Linked DNA regions of Homo sapiens: all the other regions are linked to region 1. Evidence: fine-mapped expression QTL. A gene starts in region 1. Each other region holds a variant in brackets. All regions are shown on one strand. Distances are from middle to middle.

Evidence for each region. PIP is the estimated chance that this variant, and not a neighbour inherited with it, causes the effect. A credible set is the group of variants that fine-mapping cannot tell apart.
Region 2: its variant is the best candidate, but not a certain one, in a credible set for the expression of STX8 in visceral fat (GTEx, PIP 0.90).
Region 3: its variant is the best candidate, but not a certain one, in a credible set for the expression of STX8 in sun-exposed skin (GTEx, PIP 0.88).
Region 4: its variant is the best candidate, but not a certain one, in a credible set for the expression of STX8 in whole blood (INTERVAL, PIP 0.56).
Region 5: its variant is the best candidate, but not a certain one, in a credible set for the expression of STX8 in whole blood (INTERVAL, PIP 0.71).

The regions. Positions count from the first base shown.
Region 1 is chr17:9,572,909-9,577,908 of GRCh38, forward strand. It overlaps STX8 (syntaxin 8), which reads right to left and starts at 2,912. Exons shown (of 8, transcript NM_004853.3): 1 at 2,884-2,912. The coding sequence starts at 2,900. CFAP52 (cilia and flagella associated protein 52) reads left to right here and starts at 3,734. Exons shown (of 14, transcript NM_145054.5): 1 at 3,734-3,857. The coding sequence starts at 3,788. RefSeq lists enhancers at 2,895-3,074, 3,867-3,996.
Region 2 is chr17:8,828,488-8,833,487 of GRCh38, forward strand. It overlaps PIK3R6 (phosphoinositide-3-kinase regulatory subunit 6), which reads right to left. Exons shown (of 20, transcript NM_001010855.4): 9 at 4,402-4,558; 10 at 1,219-1,305; 11 at 80-503. Among named protein-coding and RNA genes, the nearest start is that of MFSD6L, 32 kb to the left of the region's middle. RefSeq lists enhancers at 1-699, 4,734-4,813. The variant C/T (reference allele first, on the strand shown) is at 2,452.
Region 3 is chr17:9,428,968-9,433,967 of GRCh38, forward strand. All of the region lies in intron 6 of STX8 (syntaxin 8), which reads right to left. Among named protein-coding and RNA genes, the nearest start is that of STX8, 140 kb to the right of the region's middle. The variant G/A (reference allele first, on the strand shown) is at 2,125.
Region 4 is chr17:9,389,467-9,394,466 of GRCh38, forward strand. The region is part of intron 6 of STX8 (syntaxin 8); the gene reads right to left. Among named protein-coding and RNA genes, the nearest start is that of STX8, 180 kb to the right of the region's middle. The variant C/T (reference allele first, on the strand shown) is at 2,526.
Region 5 is chr17:9,436,253-9,441,252 of GRCh38, forward strand. All of the region lies in intron 6 of STX8 (syntaxin 8), which reads right to left. Among named protein-coding and RNA genes, the nearest start is that of STX8, 140 kb to the right of the region's middle. The variant C/A (reference allele first, on the strand shown) is at 2,713.

The DNA of each region.
Region 1 (5,000 bases):
GTCCAGTGATAGCTTCCACCAATCTAAATAGATAACTGGGGGCCTGTCCCTTATCTTTGACCTTTATTTCCTACTTGATTTGTAAACTGAGGGATTTAGGTTCCAGAAGGTGGAGGGCAACTTAGGAATATGTATTGTAAACCAAAATAAAATTCTAAGCCCACCCCCAACACCCCCCCCCACCCCCGCAACCATCTGAACGGACCCCTACTCTAAGGCAAGGGCATTCCAAAGTTAACCTGAAACACTGGTTCAGGCCATGATGGGAAGAGGGGATCAGACATGCCTCATTATATATCCTCTCCTCCTTTTTGGAATTCAGGAAAAGCCAACCAGCATTAACGTCAATACAGACCTTAAGTCTGATAAGAAACACTTACAATGTATTCTCTCTAAAGCCTGCTACCCAGAGGCTTCATTTGCATAATAAAATCTTGGTCTCCACTACCCCTTATCATAACCCAGACATTCGTTTCTATTGATAATAACTCAACCAATTGCCAATCAGAAAATTTTTCAATCTACTTATGACCTGGAAGCCCCCCACGCCCTTCGAGGTGTCCCTCCCTTCTGGATTGAGCCATCATAAATCTTACATGTATTAATTCATGTATTATTCTCCCTAAATTGTATAAAAGCAAGCTGTTCCCCAACCACCTTGGGCACAGGTCTTCAGAACCTCCTGAGGCTGTGTCATGGGTGCATTCTTAACCTTGGCAAAATAAACTTTCTAAATTGACTGAGACCTGTCTCAGATACTTTGGGGTTCACAGTATCAAGGGCCTTAAAAATGTTTATACCCTTGAGCCCAACAGTTCTATTTCACTTTCAACAGTCTAATGAGAAAGCCACTTAGTCAAACTGATTGAGAATAACAAAAAAAGTATAAATGCTTCACTTTCAACAGTTCTAATTCCTACTTCTAGACAGGGAGCCCAAGGAAATAAGAGATAGAACAAAGGGACTCCCTTTGCAATGATAAAACAAAACAAAACATCAGAAAAACAAAAAACTAATAGGAGAAAAATAAATTATGGTCATTCATGTGATGCATTATTTTGCAACATAAGACAATTATGAGGCCAGGTGCGGTGGCTCACACCTGTAATCCCAGCACTTTGGGAGGCCAAGGCGGGCAGATTGCCTGAGCTCAGGAGTTCAAGATCAGCCTAGGCAACACGGTAAAACCCTGTCTCTACTAAAATACAAAAAATTAGCTGGGCGTGGCTGCGTGCGCCTGTAGTCCCAGCTACTCCAGAGGCTGAGGCAGGAGAGTTGCTTAAGCCCAGGAGGTGGAGGTTGCAGTGAGCCATGATCGCGCCATTGCACTCCAGCCTGGGTGACAGACAGAGCAAGACTCCGTCTCAAAAAAAAAAAAAAGAAGAAAAGAAAGTTATGCTTTCAAAGAATGTCCAATGACATAGAGAAATGCTGTTTATATTATATATATATATAAAAATATAGATTAAAATAACAAATTCATTGTAAAAAAATCATTAATGGCTATTTCCAAATTATAGAGTTAAAGATGCTATTTATTTTCCTTTTTGCAAATTTTCAATATTCTCTAAATTGAATATTCTCTATCAAGGGGTGTATATAACTGTTAAAATTAGGGATTTTGGGGTTTTTTATTTTTTTTTGAGACGGAGTTTCGCTCGTGTTGCCCAGGCTGGAGTGCAATGGCACGATCTCAGCTCACCACAACCTACACCTCCCGGGTTCAAGCGATTCTCCTGCCTCAGTCTCCCGAGTAGCTGGGATTACAGGCATGTACTACCATGCCCGGCTAATTTTGTATTTTTAGTAGAGACGGGGTTTCTCCATGTTGGTCAGGCTGGTCTCGACCTCCCGACCTCAGGTGATCTGCCTGCCTCGGCCTCCCAAAGTACTGGGATTACAGGCGTGAGCCACCACCGCGTCCGGCCTAAAATTAGGTTTAAAAAAGTAAATGCTAAATTAAATAATTGGCCCAAATAACCTAGATTCCAGGTAACTCAACTTTGTTCTTGGAATCCATTCTTCTAATATCCAGGATGTGGGCAACTTAAACAATTATAAACTATATTAGAAATAACAACATAAGACACATATTCCAACAAGAACGTTATAGAGCTGTAATATGTTTTTAATTATTAAGCAGAAAGGTCAAGTCTATGTTCAATAACAATACGTTCCTTGGGATCAAACAATATGTTCCTTGGGATCAAAAGTTGCATCTTTCATCATGCAGTCCTTGGGATTAACTGCTAAATAAATCACCCTTATCAGCTATTGTTTTACTGCAGAAGCTACTGCTAAAGGAAAAGACTTCATGATATTAACTCAAGAAAGTGCAAAATGCCTTATAAACAAGTGCACAATTTCCCTCCCAGGTTCCTGTATCTGGAAGGGCCCCCAAGATCTAGGTCTTAGCCCCAGCTGGTTACTAACTGGCTGGTGGCCATGGATTCTGAACCTCGGTTTCTCCACCTGTGAAATAAGGGGGTTTACCGGGATGGACTGACATGCTACAAAAACGTTATTTCGACTTCACTTTTATAGGAGTCCAGGGAAGCCTGCACCAGCCAGCTAGCTCCAAAACCAGGATGGGCGGGAAATCCCCGCAACGAGATGCAGCCCAGAAAAGCTAAAGGAATATTCAGAGATTTGGCGTAAGTCCTCAGCTCTCCAGCGGACCACCTGGTCTCCTTCCCGGGCCACCCTTGCAAGGACCAAGTGTGGCGGGATGTGGCTGAGCCCCCTCAGTAAAGGAAAGGTCTCGCTGCCCCTCCCCTCATCCCGAAAGGCCACCAGCGGCAATGCGAAGTGATTGCCTGCTCTCCGGAAGCCCGGCCTCCCCGAAGGTCCCTCCACGCACCGCCGCCCTCACCCGGGACTCACCAGGGGTCCGGTGCCATCCTGCAGACTCCGCCCGCCGCTCGGACTCTTCCTGCTCTTAGCAGCTGACTACGGCGGCCCGCGCGGCTCACTCCCCGCAGTTCGTCCCGTGCGCGACCGGAGCCTGGAGTTTGCAAAGTGAGTAGCTAGGGCCTCAGAACTATAATCAGAGAAAGCAAAGCGCTCCCCTGCGGACAGTACACTGGAGCAATCTACTCCCACCAAGAGACGCGAACTGCTAAGCTCAGTTAAAATTGTTAAATAGAAACAAAGCATTTTCCCAGGAAGGTGGGAGCGCTGCAAGACCTCTCTGTAGCAGTTACTTAAAAATTTATCCTGCTTCAAAAACAAAACAATAAACAAAACACTAGATTGCGGTGAGACTTGCACGCTGCGTAAACTCACTACAACCTACTTTAAGTTAACTTTATGATATGTAAATTATACCTCAACGCTTTTTAAAAAATCTTTAAAATTTTTTTCACACTGCTCCAAACAGGGGCCCAAAGAAGTATCAATTATATATATTTTTTATAGCAGCCTTCCTATCAGTCCTGTACGCCTGATTACATATTTTTTAAATGCCATTCATTCGGTGCTTGATTTTAGAGTTACTAAGAAGTCACAGACTCTACACAAGGGGATGGAGGAATTAGTTCTGCGCAGTTAGTGCCATCCCCTAAATTTCCAGAGAAATAGCACAAAAAAAAAGAAGAGGAGTCCCACCCCATCTCTCTTCCAGTCCCCATACCCCTTCATTTCCAAGAATGCTAATGAACTCGAACTCGGCAGGCTGGGTTTCTGCGCGGGCGTGGAGCTGGAGCGCATGCGCTCGTCCGTTACCATAACGACCAGAAGACGCTGCAGCCACTAGGGAGGAGAGCAAAGTAATCAGAACCTCCCAAGGATGGATAACAAAATTTCGCCGGAGGCCCAAGTGGCGGAGCTGGAACTTGACGCCGTGATCGGCTTCAATGGTGAGGCCTCCAGCATCTTTGGGCTGGCTGGTTTAGGAATTCGGAGGACGTGTAGTGCAAACAGGAATAGTGAGACACCGGGGACACCTGAAAGGCAGTGTGGGACAACGGCAGGAGCCCTGGCCAGGGACACGCACAGGAGGACCCGCACAGCCTGACCTGCCCCAAGGCCTTGGAGAGTCACTTCCTCGATCCAAGCCTCAGGGAGTGAGATGGTTTTTACCAGCTCGGACAAGCGCCAGCACCTAAAAGGGACCAAATGCCTCTTCCCCAGGCGGGCCGGATGAGTACGGGTGGTTGTAACCCTTCTCCCACTAGGTCAGCCCTTCCTGGCTCTGAACCCCACGCCGCTCGCAAAGCCCTAGGCTCCTTCGTAACCACACAGAAGGATGCTGTCTGTGTCGGCCCCTGGGACCAGCTAGGAAATCTGCTAAAATCCCAACTGGCGTACCAGTGAGAAAGGGCTGGGAGGGAACGTGTGTTTGAGCAACCCCCTGAGGGGATGTTGTTGGTCCTCTAATCCTAAGGAAGGTTTCTAAATGATGAGGATTTCAGACCAGGACAGAAGGGGAAGGGGACGCCAGGGGGAGCTAAAGCGGAGAGAAAAAGGGACTGGGCCGCTCCGCTGAAATCTTATTTGTGACTGCCTATTGTTTTGAAGATTCTGGGAAGAAAAAGCTGTGGGGTTTTATTGTTCGTTTTGAGGGGTTTTGGTTTTTTGAGGGATGAGAAAACAATGAATTAGATTTTAGGAGAAGCAAAACTTTTCAAAAATGTGTGTTGTGATGCCTGAAAGCTTTAAGAATGTGGATGCAGAACAATCACTGTCTAAAGTTTTAAGCATACTCTAGGACTTAGCTCTTGACTCTTGGTTTAACTTTAACAGTCTCCAATAGAAAGTGAGTGCTTTATACATTTCGGATATCAGATATCTTGAGAGTTGGTTACAAGATCATTGAGAAACAATTGAGCAGCCTACAGTGGGTTGCATAATGTCACTTGTTGAGCCAATGTAGAACCACACACATAGAACTCTGCAACTGAGGCCGGGGGCAGTGGCTCATGCCTGTAATCCCAGCGCTTTGGGAGGCCAAGGCAGGTAGATCACCTGAGGTCAGGAGTTCGAGACCATCCTGTCCAACA
Region 2 (5,000 bases), 740 kb before region 1:
TGATCCTTCACCAGCCCACGCCAGGCCCACCTGTGCCCCTGACCAGCGCCCACCCCCAGCCCCCACGTCGGGGCCCCACCTGAGTCTGTGGTAGGCCTGGGCCAGGCGCCCCAGCATCCTGTCATCTCCGAGCACAAGTACCCGGGCTGTGTGCAGCCGGGACACGCCGGGCAGCATTTCCCCATCCCCACTGGGCCGGCCTGTCCTCCGGTGCAGCCCTGGGGGCCCGTCCCAGCTGCCAGGCATCAAGAAGTCCAGGGGCCATGCACGCTTCTTGATGCCCCCTTTGCGCTGCAGCCCGGCTCGCTCCATCTCAGGGCTGCCGGGTGCAGGCAGCTCATCAGCCCCCGTGGGAAGGTCCCGCTCAATGCCGCTGTCAGTGGACAGCACAGAAACCCGGGCCAACTCCCGGTCCGGCCGGAGGCCCTGCAGATCCAAGACCTCCAAGTCAGCACTGAGGCGCAGCTGGGATCTTGGGCGGAGGAAGAGCACCAGTTCCTTCCCTGGGGTGGGGGAACAAGGGCGGTGAGGACACGTGAGGCTGGCAGGGCTACGTTTCTGATTTCAGCCAGTCCTCTTCAGAGGATACACACACACAGAAACACAGACAGACACATAAAGACACACATATGAACATGCACAGAGACTCACACACAGAGACACACAGATGCACACACATACACATGTACAGACACAGACAGACATACACACACGTGCACACACACAGACACACACACAGAGACACACTGAAACACATGCATGCACGCATACACACACAGACACACTGACACACACACGCATCATGCATACACACACACTGACACACGCATGCACGCATACACCCATGCAAGCACACACAGACACACTGACACACACACATGCATGGATACACACACTGACACACACGCATGCACACATACACACAGACACACTGACACACTCATGGATACACACACTGACACGCATCCACACACATACACTGACACACACTCATGCACGCATACACACACACTGACACACACTCATGCATACACACACACTGACACACGCATGCACACAGACACACACTCATGCACACATACACACACAGACACACTGACACACACTCATGCATACACACACTGACACACGCATGCACACTGACACACACTCATGCACGCATACACACACAGACACAGACATATACCACTGTTTCCAGACAGCTCCATGGGCACGTACAGAGCTGCTCCTCACCGGTCCACAAGTGGAAGGTGATGTAGGGGCTGGGCAGGGGAATGCTTGGTGGCCGCTCTTGGACAAGGTCACCTGCAGAAAGGAGCAGGCTGTGGAGGCCATGGAGGAGGCCATGGGACCCTCCTCTGCCCTCCCCATCCTGCCCAGCTCCTGTGCGGGGTCTTAGAGAGGTGGCAGGGACTCTCTCCTTCACATCTGGTCTGCCTTTCCATCTCTGCCACCACCAGCCCATCCAGGGCCCAACAGTGCAGCTGTCCCCTCCCTGTCCAACAATGCTTAGTAGCTACGTTTTCTCAAACCTAGCTCAACCCTTAGGGGGTCTTCACAAACCAGCTCACAAGGCCTTTTCCAACCTATGCTCCTATGCTGGCCATGCCTTCAGCCCTGTGCAGCTGCCAGACTGGCTTTCCCACTGTTCTTAAAATGCCCTGCCTGCATCCAGACGAGGCAGGAAAGACCCCTGCCCTTCTCAGGGCTGCTTCCAATATCTTGCATGCAGTAGACACTCAGTTAACATTTGCAGCTGTCGGCGATGCTGACGAGAACTCATCAACAAAGTTTGGGGGCAGCAGGAACCCCGGGCAGTCCAGGGGAGAGACAAAGGACAGCCCTTCTTCCTGCTTCTCTTTCTAGAATCTTTTCTGACCACTCCAGTGGCCCGCGGTGGTCATTCCCTCCGAGCAGACTGTCTGCACACTGGGCACACCTCACATGTGGTCTTAGGATTTGGCTCCGTATTCCCGTTTCACTTCTATATTGCTGTGGCTCCCCACTCATGAGGCTGCAAGCTTCTTAGGGGAGAGCAGCTAGTGTTCACTGAGCACCTACTGCCTGCCAGGCCTTATTCTACTCACCTGGCACACACTGTAATCATTTCTCTGGATCCTGCCAATGGCCCTGGGCAACAGGTGACATTATTATCCTCAATTTACAGGGGAGAAGCCAGGACACAGAGAGGTTGAATAACTGGCCCAAGGTCACATAGTAAATAGTACAGTGACGACTTGAGCCCAGGCAGCTCAGCTCCAGAGTTCCTGCTCTTACCCACAACACTGTGCTTATAATCACCACTCCATACTGCCCCCTACAGCCACAGGGGCTTGACGGGGGTGCTGCCTGGTCATTAAGATGCACAGGGCTTGGCCGGGCACGGTGGCTCATGCCTGTAATCCCAGCACTTTGGGACGCCGAGGAGGGTGGATCACGAGGTCAGGAGAT[C/T]GCAACCATCCTGGCTAACACGGTGAAACCCCGTCTCTACTAAAAAAACACAAAAAAATTAGCTGGGCATGGTGGCAGGCGCCTGTAGTCCCAGCTACTCGGGAGGCTGAGGCAGGAGAATGGCGTGAACCCAGGAGGCAGAGCTTGCAGTGAGCGGAGATTGAGCCACTGCACTCCAGCCTGGGTGACTGAGCAAGATTGTGTCTCAAAAAAAAAAAAAAAAAAAAAAAGATGCACAGGGCTTAGCCAGGTGTGGTGGCACGTGCCTGTGGTCCCAGCTAGTCGAAAGGCTGAGGTGGGAGGATCGCTTAAGCCCAGGAGGTCAAGGCTGCAGTGAGCCATGATCGAGCCACTGCACTCCAGCCTGGGTGACAGAGCAAGACCCTGTCTAAAAAAAAAAAAAAAAAAAAAAAAAAGGCACAGGGCAAGTCTGGGCAGGAGACAGGTGCCCTTGGATGTGTCTTGGGGGTGGCCCAGATGGTCTTAATTAATCCATGCAGAGTCACTGGTGAGTGTTAGCAAGGGGCCACAAGGGGAGCAAAGCCAGATTGGCCCCAGGGTTAGTCCCAGCTTGGGGTACAGGAGGAGCTTTTTCCATGTGGGATCAGAGGCAGTGTAGAATGTTAAAGTAAAAGAGCGGACAACTTCGAAGATGGAGTCTTTAGGCAGGGACTATCCTGCCCACCTCACCCAACTGCTGTGGCCTCCACCCAACCTGGGCTGCCAAGTTCAAACCCAGGGCCTGGCACACTAACCTCTTCCGGTGGATTCCAGTCCTTAACCCCATGCCTTATAATGACAGGTGCACGATCAGTGACTGTGCATATCTGGGACATGCAGGCTGACATATTCCATGATACTTTGAATGACCACGAAATAGGACCCAAATCAGAACCATCCTACAACAGCCAGGAAACACATATTCGGGACGTTTCTCTGGGCTATTTCAGATGCCCCCATCCACATGGGGCTTGTGTCAGGGTAGGCATTATCTTACCTACATTATGCCTTGCATAAGATAAGGCGTTATCTTATAAATATGCAAATAGGAAGGGTGAGGAATAAAAATCTATGATACCAGATATAAACGATGTTGACTCATCTGCTCTTTTAGATGCTCTGGTCCTTGGACGATCAAATCCTTGGATTACTGCAGCTGAGTAGTGAACTAGACAGCCTGGATTTGTATCTTGGCTTTGCCATTTACTGCCTTGGGTGATCTTGGGCAAGATATTTAACCTCTTTCTAACTCAGTTTCGTCCTCTGTAAAATGGGGATAATAATAGTTTCTGCTTATAAGTTGACTGTGAGGTTTCATTGATTTAATACAGTATACGCAATATATTTAAATATATGTAAGGTGATTAGAACAGCAACTGGAGTATAGTAGGGGCTCTGTGGGCATCGGCGGTTATCATGACCAAATTACCCACCTTCTTTTTTTTTTTTTTTTTTTTTTTTTGAGACGGAGTCTCGCTCTGTCGCCCAGGCTGGAGTACAGTAGTGTGATCTCGGCTCACTGCAACCTCCGCCTCCCTGGTTCAAGTGATTCTCCTAACTCAGCATCCCGAGTAGCTGGGACTGCAGGTGCCCACCACCACGCCCAGCTGATTTTTTTTTTTTTTTGAGACTAAACCCTCTACTACTTTAGTAGAGGGTTTCCCCATGTTGCCTAGGCTGGTCTCGAAACCCTGACCTCAGGTGATCCGCCTGCCTCGGCCTCCCAAAATGCTGGGTTAACAGGCGTGAGCCACCGCTCCCAGCCTAATTACCCGCCTCTTAGTCCCGGTCCTGCCAAACCCCCAGGCTGCCCCCAGTCCCCAGGCTCCTGGGAGTCGGCCAGGCACCCAGACAGAGGCAGGTCCAGCGCTGCTCTCTGGCGCCCCCTGCTGTGCAGTGAGCTGCCCCCGCGGGACTCTTGCCAAGGCCCCCCATCTGCCAGTCGCTTACCACCGCAGCGCCCCGCCGCGGGACCCAGCAGCGAGCAGTAAATCTCCTCCAGCCTCTCTACGTGTCCCTCCCGGCTCGGGCTGGCCTCGCTGGCCATCTGCTCCAAGGCGGCCACCACGGCGTGGAAATAGTGCTCCAGGGTGCGGCGAGGGCTGGCCTGTTGGGGAGGGGCGTCAGAGCCTGGGTCTTGGCCCAGCGCCCACGCACCCCAGCTCCTAAGCCAAGTCCGCAGGGCCCTGGCAGCCCAAGGTGACACCTCTCCGCTGCCCCTGGGGGCCCGGCAGGAGCTTCCCCCGAAGGCTTCTGGATCCCACATCCAGGGCCCTATGCCTGCCCTGCAAGTGGGGGTTCCCCTCTGCCCCTCACACGCTATTATGGGGAGACTACTGGTCTGCAATGTCTGTTACCCAGAGAGGCAGAGATAGCCACTGACGCCCACTTCCTGAAAGCGTCACCCAGCACTTGGATCAATGTTCTAGCCCCCACTAGATTGTGAATTCCAGGAATTCACAGGGAATTTTGTCTGTTTCATTCATAGCTGCATCTCCAGCACTTAGAATAGCTCACTGCACCAGGTGTTGTTCTAGGGGCTGGGATAC
Region 3 (5,000 bases), 140 kb before region 1:
GCACAAAACATGTTTTTCAAGTTCATAGCCCCATATTTCATGAAAGGGTACCTTTGACTTGGTCAGTTTCAGTGCAAACATATTAATCCTTAATTACCCAGAAGATTCAGTTAACCAGAACATCCCAATCCCTTACTATATACTCAGTGGGGTTTTTAAAACAGTTTTATTGAGACATAATTCACCTGCCACAAATTTACCCATTTAAACTGTATAATTACATAGTTTTTGGAATGTTATACTATTAATTTTTTAAAATTGTTTTGAGATATATATATCTAAAATGGCAAAATGGCACATTTTGTTTTATATATTATATATAAAATATATAAATACATTATTTATATATTTTTATTATATATTTTATATACATATATTTATATATAATATATAATAAATATTTATATATAACATATATTTATATATTATAAATATATAAATATATGTAAATAGGCCAGGCACGGTGGCTCACACACCTGTAATCCCAGCACTTTGGGAGGCCTAGGCAGGCGGATCATGAGGTCAGGAGATCAAGACCATCCTGGCTAACACGGTGAAACCCCATCTCTACTAAAGGTACAAAAAATTAGCCGGGCGTGGTGGCGGGCACCTGTAGTCCCAGCTACTCGGGAGGCTGAGGCAGGAGAATGGCGTGAACCCAGGAGGCGGAGCTTGCAGTGAGCTGAGATCGCGTCACTGCACTCCAGCCTGGGCGACAGTGCAAGACTCCATCTCAAAAAAATATATATTATATATTTTATATTATATTATATATTATATATATTATATTTTATATATTATATATAACATATATATTTTATATATTATATATAACATATATATTTTATATATTATATATTATATATATTATATATAATATATAATATATATTATATATATTATATATTATATAGAATATATTATATATAATATATTATATATTATATATAATATATATAATATATATTATATAGAATATATTATATATAATATATATATTATATATTATATAGAATATATTATATATAATATATATATTATATATTATATATTATATATAATATATTCTATAGAATATATATATTCTATATAATATATATATTCTATATAATATATATATTCTATATAATATATATATTTTATATATAAATAAATATAAATATAAAATATATATAATTTATATATAAAATATAAAATATATATAATTTATATATAAATAAAATATAAATTATATATAATTTATATATAAATAAAATATATATTATATATAAAACAATTTGCCATTTTAAAGTATATAATTCTGTGGCATTAATTACACTAACAGTGTGGTATAACCACCACCACTTATCTATTTCCAAAACTTTAAAATTATCTCAAACAGCAACTCTAACCATTATGTAATAATTCCCCATTTCCCCCTGCCCCTAGCCTCGGTAACCTCTAATCTACTTTCTTTCTCTGTGAATTTGCCTATCCTAGATATTCCATATAAGTGAAATCATACAATATTTGTCTTTTTGTATCTGGCTTATTTCACTGAATGTCTTCCAGGTTCATATATGTAATCGCATATATCAAAACTTCATTCTTTTTATGGCTGAATAATAGACCATTTTAAGTACATACTACAACTTGTTTACACATTCATCTGTTGACGGACAGTTGGGCTCAGTGGTTTTGGCTTTTTTTTTTTTTTTTTTGAGACAGAGTCTCGCTCTGTTGCCCAGGATGGAGTGCAGTGGCGTGATCTTGGCTCACTGCAACCTCTGCCTCCCAGGCTCAAGTGATTCTCCTGCCTCAACCTCCCAAGTAGCTGGGACTACAGGCGACCGCCACCATGCCTGGCTAATTTTTTGTATTTTTAGTAGAGACGGGATTTCACCATGTTAGCCAGGATGGTCTCAATCTCCTGACCTCGTGATCCACCCGCCTCGGCCTCCCAAAGTGCTGGGATTACAGGCGTGAGCCACTGCCCCCGGCCTTTGGCTTGTTTTTTAATAAATCATGAGTTGCTGAGCATCTCATTGGGTAGCAGGGGTTTTTTTGTTGTTGTTGTTTTGGTTTTTTTTTAGTAGAGATGGGGTTTCACCATGTTGGCCAGGATGGTCTCCATCTCCTGACCTC[G/A]TGATCCACCTGCCTTGGTCTCCCAAAGTGCTGGGATTACAGGTGTAAGCCACTGCGCCCAGCCTTTGGCTTGTTTTTTAATAAACCATGAGTTGCTGAGCATCTCATTGGGTAGTAGCATTTTTGTTGTTGTTGTTTTATTTTTCTGTTTTTTTTTTTAGTAGAGATGGGGTATCACCATGTTGGCCAGGATGGTCTCGATCTCCTGACCTCGTGATCCACCTGCCTCGGCCTCCCAAAGTGCTGGGATTACAGGTGTGAGCCACTGCGCCTGGCCTTTGGCTCATTTTTTAATAAATTATGAGTTGCTGAGCATCTCATTGGGTAGCAGGGTTTTTGTTGTTGTTGTTGTTGTTGTTTTGTTTTTTTTGTTTTTTTGTTTTTTAGTAGAGATGGGGTTTCACCATGTTGGCCAGGATGGTCTCGATCTCTTGACCTTGTGATCCACCTGCCTCGGCCTCTGAAAGTGCTGGGATTACAGGCGTGAGCCACCGCGGCTGGCCAAGGGCAGCAGGTTTAAAGGAAGAGAGAACACAGTCATGACACTGGTGCTGTGGCTGAATTCTAGAAGGTAGTCCTCTTCCCAATTTTACTAACTGAGAAAAGTAACAAGGTAAGGCTCACTTGTTTAAGAACAGCAGGTTAGCAACAACATAGTGCCAAACGTTCTGACATTAACATCATGGTGTTAAGACCACGAGTGCTGTACTGTCTCCAAATACAGGTCAAGGCTATGCTTGCAGAGCTTTCCCAGAAACCTCCCTTCCTTTTCCTTTCTGAAGTCAGAGTGTTCCTAGGACAACATTTTGGTTCATAAAACATTTTGTAATGCTGTGACTATCTCAGCATACAGGATACCCCTCTCACTTCAATCTCCTTGTTTTCTAATAAAATCAAACATTTCAAAAATGGCATTAATGTAATGGATGAAAGAGTTACACTTCACCATCATTTTAAGTTAAAAAGAAGTATTTGAAAAAATAAATTCTGATTCTAATGCTCGTTCTTGAAAGTTTGCTTCAAGCAGGAAAACAACTGCTTTTCAGATTCTCTTTTTCACCTGGCTTTTTTTTTTAAGTTCTTAAGTAAAAATAAAAAAGTTCCAATTGATTTTGTAAGTTTTGTGATGGTAAAACAAGATGTGGAGCAAACATTTCAGAATACCAAACAGAGTTAATTAATTCCAGTATAAGCTCCTCACATACGGCCAGAGCTTGCAAGCAGATGTGCTGGCTAAATATCTCAGGTCAATCTTAGCACATTATTGAAAGTAACCTCCCATTCCTCAGAAAAGTCTGGCCTGCAGCTTACAAACTAGAGCAAACAACTTAGACACATGGAAAAGTAGAATTTAACATCTCCCGATTTCCACTCTCCATTTATTTCCAAACCTTCCATCTAAATCGGAAGAAAAAAAAAATGCCCTCTAGTCACACATAGGCCACACTAAAGTATTAGCCACTAAAATAAAAGATGAGGAAGCAATTTTAAATGCAGTCACCACAAATGTGTTTTGGGAACTTTCACCTTGTCTCTCATAAACTAGAAAGTGTACTTCATGTTCCTTTTGGTTTCGAATGAGCAAGGCATTTCAACTATTAACATTTCATTTCCACCACGTGTCTGTTTCAGAGCTAGCAGCTGGCCTATTTATTTTGCTAGCTGGTGATAGAATTAAATACAGAGTCTTTGAAAACATTTACAAGCTTTCCCTCTAACCTTCTGTGTACTTTCCAAATTAGGCTACTTTGATTGTTATTAGCTAAAGGTTTACGTACTGGAATACTAACACTGTTACCTTCAGAGTAAATTGTTTATAGCTCAGGTGCAGTTTAGAACATTTTCCTCCATGGAATACTCTTGAGATTGAGGAGAAGAAAGTTGAACTGGTTCACTCTGGATCAACAAGTTTCCTTTGTGAGTCAAACAATATTAAGGCCACACAGATATGGATGCAGTCAGGGAAACCAGTTGTGAAAATAGTTCTAGTCCTCTACAAAACCACAGGCTTCCTTTGTGAGCTCCCAAATGCTTTATAATCTCAAAATCACCATCGTCATAATGCACTCCTAAGATTTATTCTTTGACACTAGCGTTTTGATGTGGAAGACAAGGCATACGCCTGGACCCCAGGCCAGTGTGGGTTCAAATCACGTCTCCTTCACTTATGATGAGCTAGACGGTCTTAACCAAATAACCCAAGTCTTTAGTTTCAAAATCAGCAAAACGGAAATAGTAATTTCCACTTCATAGCTTTGTCGTGAGCACTTGCATTGCACAGATGCTCAATTAGTGGTTTGGGATGAAATCAAAGATCCTTCATCACTATAAGCTTTTCTCAATCTCTTCGGCCCACAATATCACTCATGAAAAGCATCCATTCATTCTTTCATTCAGTCAAAAACTACCTATTGGCCCTACTGGAGATAAGAAGTTCCTCCTCCATAGATTGTGATGATGGTTTCATGGATGTACACCTATCTCCAAACTCATCATGTTGTAGGCATTAAATATTACCATTTTTTGTATGTGGGGGAAAAAAGAATGGGAAAAAATGTGGCCCCTTCTCTTAAGGAATACACAGAGTACTTCAGGGGGTCACAGATATTAAAACGGGGGAAGGGAGGGTGGGAATCCAAAAGAGTGAAAACTCTAGCTGCTCCACAGAGTATTGTGAGGACCCAGAGAAATGGGCCAACTCTTCCTAGGAAAGTGAGGAAGAGTTTAATGGGGAAGATGATATTTGAACTACGGTTGTGTGTGTCTTTTAGGTAAGAAAGATGCTCTTCTTGAGCATCATAAGCAAGGAGAACAGCACAGAAGAAGGTAAGGAGTGGTGAGATGGATTGCTGTAGTCAGTGCAGCTACAGAAGAGA
Region 4 (5,000 bases), 180 kb before region 1:
ACATTCCAGCACAGAATGGACAAAATGGAACAACGTAAAGTATACCACAAAATGACAGCATCACAAGGATTAAGAAATATTATATGATGTCAAAATACCCGACTCCAATAATACTTCATCATTTTTCTACTCTCAATTACAGCCTCAATACATTCTATATATAGGGAGAGAGTTTGCTATATATTTTCAGATACATTTGGTGCCTTTTTATACTCATAACGGACTCATAATGGCAGTAGTAAAGTCATTATGTTATTATGCTTTTTGCTTATGTTCTTAATAATATTTGAAGACAAATGTTAAAAAAAATCTATAGTGAAGATAGAGTTTTTCTTGAGGGTATTAGTTTAATTCCCTCCGTTCCCTATAATTGATATCATACTCAAATTTATCAATGGAAACCAAAAATGGGGGGTGGTGGTGACCTCTGATAATACCGTACACTAGGAAAAGATACATTCCAGAGAACAGGGACACAAGGAAAAACCAATCTGTGACTTCTTAAAGGAAAGGTAATGCTTTGCCTATGGCATCCTATGGCAGGGAGCTGCAAGGAACTCCCGCAGATCAAAGTGGAGCCTCTGGGAACCACCCAGGCTTTGGGGACACAGGGAAAGCTCCTTTGCCTGGCAGAAATTCCCCTTGGCCACACTCGCTCACACCTTATACACAGCCAGATGGGCCAGGTTAGGCAAAAAACACAGGCTCCTTTCCGACTTCCTCTTGACCATAAACCATGGTCTCTCATCTAGGCTTAAAAATGTGTAACAGGAGTCTGGACGCAGTGGCTCAGGCCTGTAATCCCAGCACTTTGGGAGGCTGAGGTGGGCGGATCACCTGAGATCAGGAGTTGAAGACCAGCCTGACCAATCTGATGAAACCCCGTCTCTACTAAATATACAAAAATTACCTGGGCGTGGTGGTGGTTGTCTGTAATCCCAGCTACTCAGGAGGCTGAGACAGAAGAATCACTTGAACCTGGGAGGCAGAGGTTGCAGTGAGCTGAGATCGCGCCATTGCACTACGGCCTGGACAGCAAGAGCGAAACTCCGTCTCAAAAAAAAAAAAAGTGTAACACAGGGTCGGTGCGGTGGCTCATGCCTGTAATCCCAGCACTTTGGGAGGCTGTGGCAGGTGGATCACGAGGTCAGGAGTTTGAGACCAGCCTGGCCAACGTAGTGAAACCCTGTCTCTACTAAAAATACAAAAAAAAAAAAAAAATTAGCCAGGCATGGTGGTGGGCACCTGTAGTCCCAGCTACTCGGGAGGCTGAGGCAGGAGAATCACTTGAACCCGGGAGGTGGAGGTTGCAGTGAGCCGAGATCGCGCCATTGCACTCCAGCCTGGGCGACAGAGCGAGACTCCGTCTCAAAAAAAAAAAAAAAAAAAGAAGGGGGAGATATTTTAAATTAAAAGACATTAAAGAGGCAAAACAGTTAAACGCAATCTGTAATCTGATTGCTGGAGCACCCCCTCAAAAAAAAGTGACAAAACTTTATTGGGGCAATGGCAGCAATTTAAATAGAAACTCCATATTAGTCATTATTACCATATCAAAGTTAAGTTTCTTGGATATGCTAATGACACTGCAGTTATATAGGAAAACAACCTACACAGAAGAATATTAGGAGATAGATTAGGAACAGATGCCAAAGTATATAGAAGCATTACGAGACACCCTCACCTTACTTCAAACCATTCACAGGCTGGGCTCGGTGGTTCACAACTTGTAATCTCAGCACTTTGGGTGGTAGAGGCTGGTGGATCACTTGAGGTCAGGAGTTCGAGACCAGCCCGGCCAACATGGTGAAACCCTGTCTACTAAAAACACAAAAATTAGCCAGACATGGTGGTGCATGCCTGTAGTCCCAGTTACTTGGGAGGCTGAGGCAGGAGAATTGCTTGAACCTGGGAAGTGGAGGTTGCAGTGAGCGGAGATCATGCCATTGCACTCCAGCCTGGACATCACAGCAAGACTCCATCTCAAAAGAATTTAAAAATATTAAATAATAATAATTCGCTCTGGGGGGAAAAGGTACATAAATACACACACACACTCATGCAGCAACAAAAAAGCAAAACAAATGTGGCTAAACGTTAACAACTGGTGAATCTAGTAAATGAAGGGTGACCAGATATGCCTGAAGAATATACTGTTAACTTTTCTGTAGCTTTAGAAAAACCTTTAAAATAAAAAGATGAGGGAAAAAAAAAAGCCACAGACTTAGATTGGGTTACAGAAAAAGAGAGAGAGAAAAAAAAAAAGGAAACCATATTGCTATATAGATGGGAAGCATATGGCAGAGTAGGGTAACTAAAGTCCTAGATTTCACACTGGAGAAATAAAAAGGGAGCCTCAGGAGCCAAAATGCACCAGGAAGATCACAGACTGGGAGGAGCTTAGAAAAGCAACCCCTTAAAGTTGTTCATGAAGTCCTGGATTCTCCTTTGAGAAGTGCATACACGGAGCTGACCCCAAATAGTATACGTAGACATTGAGAGCTGAACTACAGGAGAGAAAACCA[C/T]CCAACTCCCAGTCTGGTCACTGGCTACTGCACCTGTGGGACAGACCCAAACAGTACTGGAAAGACTTTGAAAACTTCTTCAATGGTAGTTGGAACCTGTGGCCTCAACTCAACCAGGGCAATTGCCTGCTAAAATAAAAAATATCAACATCTCTGTAGGATTTAAACCAACAGCCAGAGTCTCATAAAATAATAATCAAAATGTCCAGGATACAACGCAAAATTTTGCAGCATATGAACATCCGGAAAATTTCAAGTTGCATAAGAAACCTGGGAAAAGACAACAAGATGCCATTGCTAAGAAGCATAGTTGTTGGAGTTATCTGACAAAGACTTTAAAGCAGCTATAATAAAAATGCTGGGCCAGGCATTTTTGGGAGCTGAATCGTGATGATTGTTTGAGCCCAGGAGTTCAAGATCAGTCTGGACAACATAGTGAGAACCTGTCTCTACAAAAAATAAAAAATTAGCTGGGCATAGTGGCATGCATCTGTAGTTTCAGCTTCTCAGCAGGCTAAGAAAGGAGAATCACTTGAGCCCAGGAGGTTGAGGCTGCAGTGAGCTGTGACTGCACCACTACACTTCAGCCTGGATGACAGAGTGAGACCCTGTTTCAAAAATACAAAGTAAATAAAAATAAAAATGCTCCAAGAAGTAATGGTGAACACTCTTGAAATATAGTCTCAGCAAAGAAACAAAAAATATAGAGAAGAACCAAATGCAACTTTTGAAACTGAAAAACACAATAACCAAATTTGAAAACTCACTGGATGGGATCAATAGCAGAATGGACATGATACAGGAAAGAGGTGGTGAACTGGAAGATAGTTCCAATAAAAATGAATAGAGCCTCAAGGACCTATGGGATAATGGGAAAAAGTCAAACATTCATGCCACTGGAGTCTCAGAAGAGAGAAAAAAGAGTGTGGGCCAGAAAAAATACGTGAACAAATAATGGTTGAAAGTTTTCTAAATTTGGCAAAGAACATACACCTACATATTTGAGAAGCTCAGCAAACCCCAAACAAGATAAACACAAAGAAGTCCAGGCCACAACACATCATATCCAAATTGCTGAACACTAAAGACAAAGAAAAAAATAATTGAACACAACCAAAGAAAAACAACACATTGCTTTATAGGGGAACAAAAATTTCAAAGACTGGATTTCTCATCAAAAATCAGAGGCCAGAAGGAAGTATAGCACCAGTTTTAAAGTGCTGAAAGAAAAGAGCTATCAACACAAAATTCTATAACCAGCAAAACTATCCTTCAGCACCGAGGTGAAATAAAGATACTCTAGACGAAGAAGTACTAAGAAAATATGTTGTCAACAGATCTACTCTAAGAGAACAGCTAAAGGAAGTTCTTCAGACAGAAGAAAAACGATACCAGTAGGAAACCTGAAACGAAGGATGAACAGCAGAAATGGTAAACATTTGGATAAATATTCTCCAGCTGACTTCTCTGTTTGGTGGATGAAAACCAAACTCATACTGTCTGATCTTCAATGCACGTAAGTATAATACATAAGACAATTATATACCATAGAGCAGGGTAGGCAAATGGGCCTATAGGGTGTAAGGTTGATACACTCCATGTGAAAAGATTAGATACTGATTCTAAGTAGACTGTAAATTTTTAAGTATGTATATTGTCATCCCTAGTTACCACTAAAACAATCTATACAAAAAGCTACAGTAAATAACAAAATAGAAAAATAAAAAAGCGGTACTAAGAAGTTCATATATATGATACAATTTATATGACATTATCCCAAAGACAAAAGTTTAGTGACAGAGGACAGGTCAGTCAGTGGTTGTCAGGAGTTAGGAATGGGTGAGAGTATGGTCGGTTTACAAAAGAAACACAAGGAAGTTTCTGGAGCAATGGAATGGTTCTGGGTCCCATTTGTGTAGTGGCTAAACAAACCTACACATGTGTAAAAATTCACAGAACAACAAACACAGTCAATTTTGTTTTGTGTTAATTTAAGAATTAAAATTTAAAAATATACAAGAGAGATACAGGTAAAGGTAGAATCTAAGAGAACACAGTATGTAAAGAACAAGAGGAGGAAAAACAATAGAAGCAAAGCAAGTGGCAAAAACAAAAACAAAAACAAAACAAAGAAAAAACCCACACTGTTGTCACAGAGGGCAGCGCCGCAAGGAAGGGAGTGTGGAATTTGCCATGTCTACTGGATGGGCTACTGGGCAGTCAGTGTCAACCATGCTAAGCGCGGCTTTGGATGTGGGAGGGATGGGGAGAGAGAGCAAAGTGTCTGAATTGCAGGAATGTATACATGTCAAAGTGTGGGAATGGGAAAACAGCCAAGTCTGGACTAGTGTATTACCAAAAGCTCATATTATTTATTTATTTATTTAAATTCATTTTTTTTTTTGAGACTAAGTCTCACTCTATTGCCCAGGCTGGAGTGCAGTGACACCATCTTGGCTCACTGCAACCTCTGCC
Region 5 (5,000 bases), 140 kb before region 1:
GAGAATGGCATGAACCCGGGAGGCGGAGCTTGCAGTGAGTTGAGATCGTGCCACTGCGCTCCAGCTTGGGCGCAACAGAGCAAGCCTCCATCGCAAAAAAAAAAAAAAAGTACCCTACCTTTGACTTGCCAAAAGAGAGATAACCATAATAAACCCAAAGACTCCATGAAAGGCAAGTCAGAAGTGGGCACGTAGAATGGGGAAAGTACACTAGGGTCTCTGGGCATCTAAAATGATTCTGATTTTGAAAAATATCAATACACAAAAATACTGGTGAGGGTAAGATGGCCAACACGCTTCGGACAGATCACAGACACTTTGACCTACTTGGGTTTTAATCATTCAGGATAACAATTACGACCACGATCAACATAACATGGTGGATGATGAAGAGCTGGCTGAAAACATCTGAAAGAGCTGGCTGAAAACATCTGAAAGAGCTGAAAGATGTTTGGCCTGTATCAATGTGGCCCAGCTCTGGGATGTAGGGATCTAGGCAGATTTACAAAATAAAAAGCAGCATTGTTTGTCTGCTGCCTCCCACCATCTGTTCTTGCCCCAGGTTAGTGGAATGAAACAAACTCTCTGGGCAAGATATTGACTCACATTTTTCAAACGCTGACTCCTGGTTTGGATACAGAGCTGAGGTCAGAATTCTTAGGTCCTTTTCCAGCCAAGCTGATTTTAGGACAGGCAAGCAATCACAAAATACTCTTCTGTGCAATAAATATGAAAATACTTAACCTCCTTAGGGTATTATGAAGCATAAATCATGCCTTTAAAAGCCTGTGACAAGCTGAAATGAAAAGCGTTCAAAGTGGAGAAATACAATGAAACCACGACTATAAGCACTCACTGAATTTTGAGCAGACAGTTGTACTATTAATTTAATGAGGTTTATGGTTTTAAAAGTATTCATCAATAGCAAATATCGCGTTGCTTAAATATTCCATTACTCGATCATCTGTCTAAATGCGCTCTGGTCTCCAACATTGATTGGCTTGCTCAAAATGGCTAGTTTCTTTCTCTCTTTTCTTTCCCCACCAAAAGTACTGCTTAAAGGAGCCATTAACAAGAGGATTCACTCGTCAGGGCTACAATGACTTGCAGCTGGAAGATCCACCTACAAATATACATCCATTCATAAGGCTGATACAACAGCTTTCAGGGAGGGGATGTGCATGAAATGGACACAAGCGAAGAGTAACAATGGCAGGGATTATCTTTTAACTGGCTCATGAGTGAAAAAATGAAATTGCAGACGTCTGACAACTGTAGCTTTTTCAGTCAGTACAAATTAAATTATAAACCTACAGCTACACATTTACTCTTTATGAGTTGATTTCATGTTAGGCCTCAATAGTTACTTATTCCTGGTACAAACGTAAACCAGCAGTTGTGCCATTTAAGAGATTAGTTCAATTAATACTGTCCCTGCTAGGCTAGGCCTTATATCTATAAGCAATTCAGTGTCTGGCTTGCTAATTCATACTCTCACTTTGCCTTTTCTTTGTCAGTCAAAGAAATTAAGCTGGAGATCTCACCAGGCCGGCCACTTTCCCAGTCTCTTAGACGCCTCTGTTTGCGGCCATTGCAGTGATTCCATGATGAATTTCAATCATTAGAAAGTTCTTCCTAAGGTAAAAAGCAGAGCTGGAATCAACTGGTACTTATTCTGGCCTTTGAAATAAGGTATAAAAAGCCCATTTCTCGCTGGGTGCGGTGGGCTCATGCCTGTAATCCCAGTACTTTGGGAGGCCGAGGTGGGCAGATCACGAGGTCAGGAGTTTGAGACCAGCCTGGCCAACATGGTGAAACCCCAACTCTAAAAATACAAAAAATTAGCCAGGCATGGTGGCACACACCTGTTGTCCCAGCTACTCAGAAGGCTGAGGCAGAAGAATTGCTTGAACCCGGGAGGCGGAGGTTGCAGTGAGCCGAGATTGTGCCACTGTACTCCAGCCTGGGTGAGAGTGAGACTCCATCTCAAAAAAAAAAAAAAAAAAAGGCCATTTCTACTGTAAAACATTTGATCATCTCTCCTCTACAACACACTACCCCCCTCCCCCACCCACCTCTTAAATATCGTATAAATGCAAGTGTGCGCCAAGGACCAGCAACTCTGGCATCGTCTGAGAGCTGGTCAGAAGTGCTGACTCTCAGGTCCCACCTTGGCCCTCCTGAACCAGTATCTGTCTTTTAACAAGATCCCCAGGTAATTCATTGGCACACTAAGGTTTGGGAAACACGGCTTTAGACCAGTGGTTGGTAAACATTTTCTGCAATGGGCCAGGTGGTAAATATTTTAGGTTTTGTAGGCCATACGTCTCTGTTGCAACTACTCAAAACTGCTGTTGCGGTGCAAAAGCAACCATACATAACACACAGTCAAACAGCCGGGCGTGGTGGCTCACGTCTGTAATCCCAGCACTTTGGGAGGCCGAGGCAGGTGGATCACAAGGTCAGGAGATCGAGACCATCCTGGCTAACACGGTGAAACCCCCGTCTCTATTAAAAATACAAAAAATTAGCCGGGCGGTGGTGGTGGCGCCTGTAGTCCCAGCTACTCAGGAGGCTGAGGCAGGAGAACAGCATGAACCCGGGAGGCGGAGCTTGCAGTGAGCTGAGATCACGCCACTGCACTCCAGCCTAGGTGACAGAGCGAGACTCCATCTCAAAAAAACAAAAAACAACAACAAAAAAAACCATAGT[C/A]AAACAAACATGGCTGGTTTTTGTTTGTTTTGCTTTTACAAAAAGTTTTATGGACACTAAGGTTTGGATTTCATATAATTTTCATGTGTCACAAAATAGCTTTTGATTTTTTTTCAACCATTTAAAAATATAAATGCCATTCTTGGCTCATGACCTGTACAAAAACGGGATAAACCATAGCTTGCTGATCCTAGCTCTATACTCTGGCACTTCACATGATATCATTTGCTGGTTTCACCTGGGCCTGGTCCCAATTCTAGATAAGGTATTCCAGTTCATTAATGCAGCATGCATAACTGAATCAAACAAAACAGATGAATTTTTAACAGTACTGAGCAGAGCAAGACCATTATTTCTCATGATTTGAACATAGCATTTGTTTTGGTGAAGACCAATGCCTAACAAAACACTTATTTTAATGTAGCAGCATACAATGTGGCTGGACATTTGTAAACAATTAAAAAATTGATATCAGTTTGCAAAATTTACTTATATCTTCAATAGTCATATCTTCTCCACACTATAATAACTAATTGTTATGATCACTACTGTACTTACTGCCATATAATTTTTTTTTTTTTTTTGCGGTGGTGTGATCTTGGCTCACTGCAACCTCTGCCTCCCAGGTTCAAGTGATTCTCCTGCCTCAGCCTCCCGAGCAGCTGGGACTACAGGTGCGTGCCACCATGCCCAGCTAATTTTTGTCTTTTTAGTAGAGATGGGGTTTCACCATGTTGGCCAGGATGGTCTCAATCTGCTGACCTTGTGATCTGCCTGCCTCGGCCTCTCAAAGTGCTGGGATTACAGGCGTGAGTGAGCCACTGCACCTGGCCAAATTTTGCAATTTTTTAATCAGGAAAGCACCATCAATACTGCTTCCTGGTGGGGTGAGGAGGAAGTCTGGAGCTGGAACACATTCCCACACATTACCATTTTTTCCTTTTCAATTCTCACCCCAAAAGTACCCCCGGCATATAGGGAAAATAAAAAGACGCATGGCAAAGGGTATTCTGCAATTAAGTTCCTCTCCACATGGGATTGTTCAAACCTTGGTCAGGATGGACAGGGGAAATTTGCAGCCTAAATATAGTGGTGGCATAAAGTAGGTCATTTCCAGAACCATGGAAAATACCACTGGGAAAAGGGCAAAAGGAAGGAAGTCATAAAGAAGAGTTGACAATTATTTCTATAATGGTTTCCAATCTGGATACTCCCTTACAGCCTATTTAAGAAACATGGAATCGGATGATTTGAAACATATTTCCTAACTCTAAAATTTGGAGATTTGTTATTAGTACCATTACCTACCTAGTTATATGTGCTCAAAGGCTGGGAATCCTCTCTGATTCATCCCTTCCACTTGGATTTCCCTTCAGATCCATCCCCCAAACCTGCCGATTCCTCCTTTATAATCCCTCTCAAATGTGTCCCCTGCTTTTCATTCTCATTGTCACCATCTTAGTTAACACTTCACCCCCAATTTACTGCAGTTATCTCCATTGGTCAATGACGTCCATGATGTTTCACATTATTGCCCAATACAATCATAGTGAATCAATGATTTTTTTTTTTTTTTTTGAGACGGAGTCTCGCTCTGTCACCCAGGGTGGAGTGCAGTGGTGCGATCTCGGCTCACTGCAACCTCCGCCTCCTGGGTTCAAGCGATTCTCCCACCTCAGCCTCCTGAGTAGCTGGGATTGCAGGCGTGGACCACCACGCTCAGCTAATTTTTGTATTTTTAGTAGAGACAGGGTTTTGCCATGTTGGCCAGGCTGGTCTCAAACTCCTGACCTAAGGTGATCCACCCGCCTCGGCCTCCCAAAGTGCTGGGATTACAGGCGTGAGCCACCGCATCCAGCCTGATTTTTTTTTAAACCACAGTTACTGTCATTTTGAACAGTCTTCAGTAATTTCCCAACACTTGAAATGCCGGCTCCATATCCTACAAGCATTTCAGTTTCCCCAAAGCTATCACCCACTCCTCCTTCGCTTCACCATGGCTGGCCTCCTCTCCATCTCCAGCTCCCAGGGGTTGACTCCACTCCTGTGCCTCATCCTTTCTCACATGCTTCCTTCATCACCTCCAAACTGGAGTTAACATTTCAAACTCAGGCCAAATGAGAGGCGTGAAGATGTACTCAAATAATTACTAATCCTGAGTATGAAGGGGCAAATGCTAAGATGAATACAACATAATGCAAAAAGATTAAAATGAGACAGGACCTTTAGAAATTTAGTCAAATACGGCTGGGCACGGTGGCTCACACCTGTAATCCCAGCACTTTGGG